Regions from separate parts of the Homo sapiens genome. Here region 1 is reported to be linked to region 2. The links are microRNA targets in miRTarBase. Many come from high-throughput screens and were not tested one by one. Region 2 holds a microRNA gene; the other region holds the end of a gene's coding sequence.

Region 1 (3,128 bases), not on the chromosome of region 2:
GACAAGGCTGTGCTGAGCCCAGAGTCCTCCATCTACACCACAGCAAGTGCTAAGACACCCCCCCGGTCTCCTGAGAAACACACAGCAATAGCGTTCAACTTTGAGGCGGGTGTCCACCAGTACATTGACGCAGACACAGATGATGAGGGACAGCTGCTCTACAGTGTGGACTCCAGCCCCCCCAAAAGCCTCCCTGGGAGCACCAGTCCGAAGTTCAGCACGGGGACAAGATCGGAGAAAAACCACTTTGAAAGCTCCCCTTTACCCACCTCCCCTAAGTTCTTAAGGCAGAACTGTATTTACTCCACAGAAGCATTGACTGGAAAAGGCCCCAGTGGTCAGGAAAAGTGCAAACTTGAGAACCACATCTCCCCTGACGTCCGTGTGTTGCCAGGGGGAGGAGCCCATGGAAGCACACGAGATCAGAGCATCTGAACTGCCCTGCCTTGGAGGAGAGACTTTTGGGTGAGGTCCAAAGAGGAGAGCTGTTCAGCTTACCTGCCACAGAGCTTTTCTGCATGAACTCTGGAACAGAAAGGCCCTGTAAAGCCCTCAGAGAGAAGAGAGACTCCAGAGAAGGCTCCCTAAGACCTTGAGAGCCATGACAGGTCCATCAGCATGAAGTTGGCCAAGCCATAGGGCACAGCACCTCCTTGTAACAACTCTATAGCCCTCTTTGGGAGATGACATGAGTGGAACTCACAGCCACCACTACCACCACTTTAGACAGGACCGAGGCCACATACTCCCCATTCTCTCGTGGCTTTCCATCTCAGCCTCGGAGGGCAACATTGACAGTCCTCCTGGCTTCAGCTAGAGAAGGATGCTGGAACAAGCGGCTGGTGTTGAAAGAGTGGGTTGACCAATTTGGTATTGAATGTTGCCCAGCCACCCCTAGGAACACCTGTCCATCACCTCCTGGATGGATTCCACTGTTAGACAGCTACAGGGAATGATTGGTCATGGGGAAGTCTCTGCGCCATAAGCCACGATCCCAGCGCAAAACCCTTACTCAAATGTCTTCATTGACTTCGGTATTTCATAGTACCTGAGATTTTATTTTGAGATACCATCAGGGTGAGTTGCACCACTTGTACTCAATTCTAATTGCCCCCTGGCAATCTGGGAAGGGTTCAGAAGGTGGGCACCCAGCCAACAGCATGAACTCAGAGCATTGTTTTAGGGTTGGAGGAGGAACACGCTTTCTTTACATCACTAGTGTAGACTCAAAAGATATGCAAGTGTCAAATATGCAAAAGAAATAGTTTATTCAAAGAGACTGTGTGTTACTGAAGAACAGCATAAAAATATGATTTTTTTACTTGCAAAAATGAAAGGAAAAAAATACCACGCATTGAAATGCCCAGTTCAGACTGAATAATTCCTGCTGCAGCAAGGAAAGTACCTACTATAATAGAAATTCTGTTTTGTTTTCTGTGGTTTTCAAGTTAAAAAAAAAAAAGTTAAAATAAAAAGCACTTTATGTTTTTCAAAAATAGGTTCTGCCAGGGACAGTGTCAACATCTTGCACTTTAAAATAAGCACTATTTCCCATAGCCCAATTGTTGGGACTGTAGTTGGATTGTTGCTACCTGCCCATTTCTGGCCAGCATGGGTAATATTGTGCTGGTATTACTGTCTGCCATATCAAAGTCTGTGGGCTCCTTCCCTGCCCCTCTGAAACCTTCCCTTAACCCTCATGGGTCAGGAGGGGTTCTTGCCCCTTGGGTGGGGCCTCTCATGAAGTCAAGTATACAGGAGACATGCACATCTCAAAAGGACACAGTGACAGTTGGACATTGGGTGTTTTACTCTGTTCTCTTTCTTGTCAACCAGCTATTGGTTTTTCAGTGTCACTGTCTGTACTAAAAGCTCAACTCTCCTTCCTGCAGCCATCGATGCAGCCAGTACAGACAAAAGCAATAAGTATTTGTGTGCATCCTGAGTGGTTCTGGTGTATTTCTTGGTGTTGGTTTTCCTGTCCTCGTTTGATGACCTGGCATTGTCCTGCCTGCTTTTAGTCCAACAGCATGGTGTTGTTGGCCATTCCTCAGTACAGTGGCATTAGGTTGAACCACTGATGAATACAATGCTATAGTGTTGGCTCACCTGTCAGTAAAGATGACATGTTATTGGTCTGCCTGTCTGTAGTACAATGGAACAATGTTGTTCTCTTAATGTAATGTTGATGGATGATGTCCCAAGTACAATAGTGTAGTTCTGTCTATCCTCAATACAGTAACAGGCATATGTCTTCCCAGTGGAAGAAAGATATGGTATTGGTTCACCTAGTCTTAAGTCTCAATATCATCTGTTGCTGGTCTGCCTGTTAGTACAATGGCATGATCCACCTCTCAGTACACAAATATCATGGAGCTGTTCTGCCTGCTCTTCATACATAAGGCATAAGGTTGAGCCACCTGCCACACATATGATGAGATGGGATCATTCCACCACCCTTAAAAATATGTCTTCTCTGCTGTATACAAACCCAATTCATAACACTTCTCAGCATCTCCAGAGACTGTAGATCCCCCCAAGAGGGTGCAGTCCTGTTCTTTGCCGCATTAACAGAGAAAACGAGAACGTCACTCTTCCTAGGTATCTTCAGAGTATTCGCGCAGCAACTGCAAAGGGACTTAGGGGCAGGGAGAGTGTGAGGTCATCCCGTGCCAGGCAGAGGAAGCAGCACTCCCAAAACACTTTGCTGAACACGCAGTCTGAGCTGGGGGCCTCTTGAGGAATGACTGTGGGACAGTTCTCCGCCGACCATCTCACATGTCTCTTCTTTGTTTTCATCACCATTAATGTCCACCATCAGCACAAATGTGAAAATTCAGGGAAAAAAACAAATGCTTTTTGATAAAAGTAAATAGTTGTGATTTCCAATTCAGATATTTTTAGAGCTGATGCTATCTGTAAAAAATAATAATAATAATAATATAGTCTATTTTACATATCAGGAAAGTGAACATGTTTCAATATAGCCATATATATTGAGAAGGAACTTACCACCCCTTCTTCCAATCGAGGCATTTCATTTGTTGGTTGAAGCAGATGAGAACTGTACAGATTGAAAATGATTTGTTTTTTTTTTTTTTTAAAAAAAACGAAAACCAATTGGTGCA
Region 2 (3,128 bases):
TGCACCAAAGTTTAGGGAAGATTTCTCAAGTCCCAAACTCTGCTGTTGAAAACCAGGCACAAACTAGCTGCCTTCTTCACTTGATCTTAGCCAAAAGACCAGGAATACTAGCTGCCTTCTTAAAGAAGCTCCCCAAATATTCCTCTCATTCAATTTATTTTAACAAGTTTTAATTAAGCCTACTAGGCACTGTGGGAGACAGAGAAGTAAATGGCTGAGTCATTGCTCTCAAATTTTTCTTTCTTTTTTTTTTTTTTTGAGATGGAGTCTCGCTCTGTTGCCCAGGCTGGAGTGCAGTGGCGCAATCTCGGCTCACTTCAACTTCTGCCTCCAAGATTCATTCAAGAGTCTCCTGCCTCAGCCACCCAAGTAGCTGAGACTACAGGCGTGCATTACCACGCCTGGCTAATTTTTGTATTTTTAGTAGAGACGAGGTTTCACCATGTTGGCCAGGCTGGTCTTGAACCCCTGACCTCAGGTGATCCGCCCGCCTCGGCCTCCCAAAGTGTTGGGATTACAGGCGTGAGCCACCGCACCCGGCCTCAATTTCCTTGTAATTGGTCCTGGGAGAATCATTCTGTGGGTTGATTCAAGGGATCCTATTAATCTTTAAGATTAAGTCATGGGCAACGCTGTCCAAATCTTGGATGCCCAGACAGGTGTGCCCTCAAGCAGCATTACCATCAAACACCCCGTGACCAAGAGGGAGTGGTGCTGAGAAAGGTAAGTGGATTCAGGGAAGGAGTGAGGTCTTTCCATGCCTCATGAGCCAGGGAAGGAGCTGTAGGTATGGGATGCCAGCAGCACACAGGTCCTTTTCTTTGGGGAGCAATCCTCTCGAGTTAACCCCCTTTCCTTTCTGGTGCATTCCTTTTTTTCTCAAGGAGGCCTACTCTGTACCTAATAGTGATTCTCCTAATCTTTTTCCACTCACTCTCCATTCCGGGCTGAGTCTGGGAATGCTTATCCTTCTTAGCCTAAGGAGTTGCCACCACTTCTGGTCCTTAAAGGTTTGAGGCTTTGGAAGATATCCTCATACAACCAGCAGATGGCATCAAAACCTTCCACCCCTCAGCTCAGGAAATCTCCCAGTTTGAAGAACCTATTCAGATCTCTCCAGATGGGTCTACAAAAAGATGAGTGAGCTGTCAAGACTTAACACAGGGTTGTATCTAGGCTTTGCAACCTAAGAGCTACACAATCTTAGCCAAACTGTTTAAACCTTTCTGACCCTCAGTTTTTCATCCATAAAATGGGGCTGTTACCTCCCAGAAGTTATTAGGTTTCACAGTAACGGAGGCAGTGTCTATCACAAGCACTGCATACAGAAGTAGTTCCATAAATGAGAGCTATTAGTATAACTAACAAGTGAGGCTACCCAGATTCCCACCAGGGTAGCTGACTGGTGCCCAGATGGGAGAGGAATTGCAATGCTGAGGAGGCAGCCAGCGCTGGGTAGCACTACACGGCCAATGCCCTTTTAACATTGCACTGCTAGTGACAGGTGCAGACAGTAGCACAATGTGAAAAGAGCTCTGGCCAGCAGCAGAGGCATGCCGGCCCTGCCTCCTCACTCCTTCTCCCAGTCCCTGGCCCACTCAGCTCACGGGCTCCCTCTGCCCCTTCTTTGCTTCAATACAGCTTTTTTCCCTTTTATTCCATTCTTAGTGTTCATTCTATTTTTTCACCACTCTTCCTTTTGCCGCCTTCTTCACCAACCCCCTGACCCCCAGCACAGAGACCACCTTTTTCTTGGAGGTTTTGGCATGGGAGGACAGGACCCACTAAAGCAGCTGCAGGGATACTTCGGGCTTGATGCTCAGTCCTCAAAGAAAACGGCTATTAGCAATCCCCAAAGTCTGGAGGTCACTCGTATGAGGCTGTGTTCATCTGGATTTGCATTTCCGCTAGCTTACCTTCTAGAGAGGAGCTTGCTGCCCAAGACTACAGAACCCTCTACTCTTCTCTAAGTTTCCATCTCCTTTTAAATTTAGATAAAGCAGAGCTCTAGGCCTCAAGGCAACACTCTCAGATGACCTTCCAGGACCAGAGAGGTGGGAGCCTGTAGTCACAGCTCCCCACGCAGTAGAGAGAAGCTTCCAGGCGGGGAGGTGAAAGCTGCTGGTGAAGCCCCACCCCTGCATCTCCTTTTGGAGGTCCTGAAAGCACTTTGCAGATTCAGCATTAAAATGGTGAGGGTGATTCGCTCACAGTTACTGAGAGTTAGGGATAGGCTTTCACTGGCAGTGGGATTCACATCTGAGTTATTTCCTGTCTTATCCAGGGACCCTTGGTTGGGGAGTCTTCAAGCTCATCCTAGCACTTCCCCATCCTATCCAACCCTAAGGGGGCTTAAATACAGGACAAACAGTCCCCGGAAGATTAACACCCAAAGCCAGAAAGCTGCCCTGGAAGGACACCTGGATATCTGGAGGCTCAGACCCAGGCAGGCTCTATTGTGGCACATTCCAGCTAGGGCCACAGCCCCGGAGCCCAGCTCCAGTTCTGACCCAGTGAACTTTGGGCAGCCCAGAGAAACAGAGGCTGGAGGGTGATTCCTCCAGTGCCCCGATCAACGAAGGGGAGATGCCTTCTTCCCTAATCCACAGCCACCGTAAGGAATAGAGGACAGAATTCCAGTTGGGAGCTCTTCCTCTGGGCTTCCCTCTAGCCTCGTCCCACCCCCTCAGGAAGCAGGAGACGTTCCCTCCCGCTCTCCCCGGCAGAGTTTGTTCCCGTAATCTGCAAACATGGGGCCCTGCCCTACAGTTTTAATGGGCGGAAACCAAGACCCCTCGAGGGTCAGTGACCTCTCTGCTCTGGGGTTGGGCAAACCAGGCCCAGCTGGGAACTGGATCACACCAACAGGGGGCAGAGGGGCAAAGATAAGGCTGCACAGCAAGCTTCAGGGAGGCCAGGGGAAGATTCTTCCCCAAGAAGTTTCCAGGTCTCTCCTTAGGGAGTGCAGGGAGAAAGGGCCAAGAGCCCCTCAGCTCTCACACACCCAACTCATTCCTGAGGAGCAGGCCCAGCGACTCACCAGCCAGCAGGACCCCTCCCCCACCTTGGGCCCAGGAGCCAGCCCCCAGCTCCTTCCAGAAGCGAGTGTAGAGACCGAGGAGGAAATG

The links. Region 2 holds the annotated microRNA hsa-miR-130a-3p (CAGUGCAAUGUUAAAAGGGCAU, at 1,473-1,494, opposite strand). A microRNA usually pairs through its seed, bases 2 to 8, with sites in the 3' UTR of a target mRNA and lowers its output. Matches are read on the target gene's strand: a 7mer-m8 pairs with bases 2 to 8, a 7mer-A1 pairs with bases 2 to 7 and ends in A, and an 8mer does both.
Region 1: miRTarBase lists KCNB1 as a target of hsa-miR-130a-3p. Seed matches in the 3' UTR shown: 7mer-m8 at 1,526-1,532.

Annotation. Positions count from the first base shown.
Region 1 is chr20:49,370,290-49,373,417 of GRCh38, reverse strand. KCNB1 (potassium voltage-gated channel subfamily B member 1) reads left to right here. Exons shown (of 2, transcript NM_004975.4): 2 at 1-3,128. The coding sequence ends at 435. All of the region lies in intron 2 of LOC105372649 (a long non-coding RNA gene), which reads right to left. Among named protein-coding and RNA genes, the nearest start is that of SNORD12, 91 kb to the right of the region's middle.
Region 2 is chr11:57,639,618-57,642,745 of GRCh38, reverse strand. MIR130A (microRNA 130a) reads right to left here and starts at 1,548; the gene lies at 1,460-1,548. All of the region lies in intron 1 of MIR130AHG (MIR130A host gene), which reads right to left. RefSeq lists an enhancer at 2,751-3,128.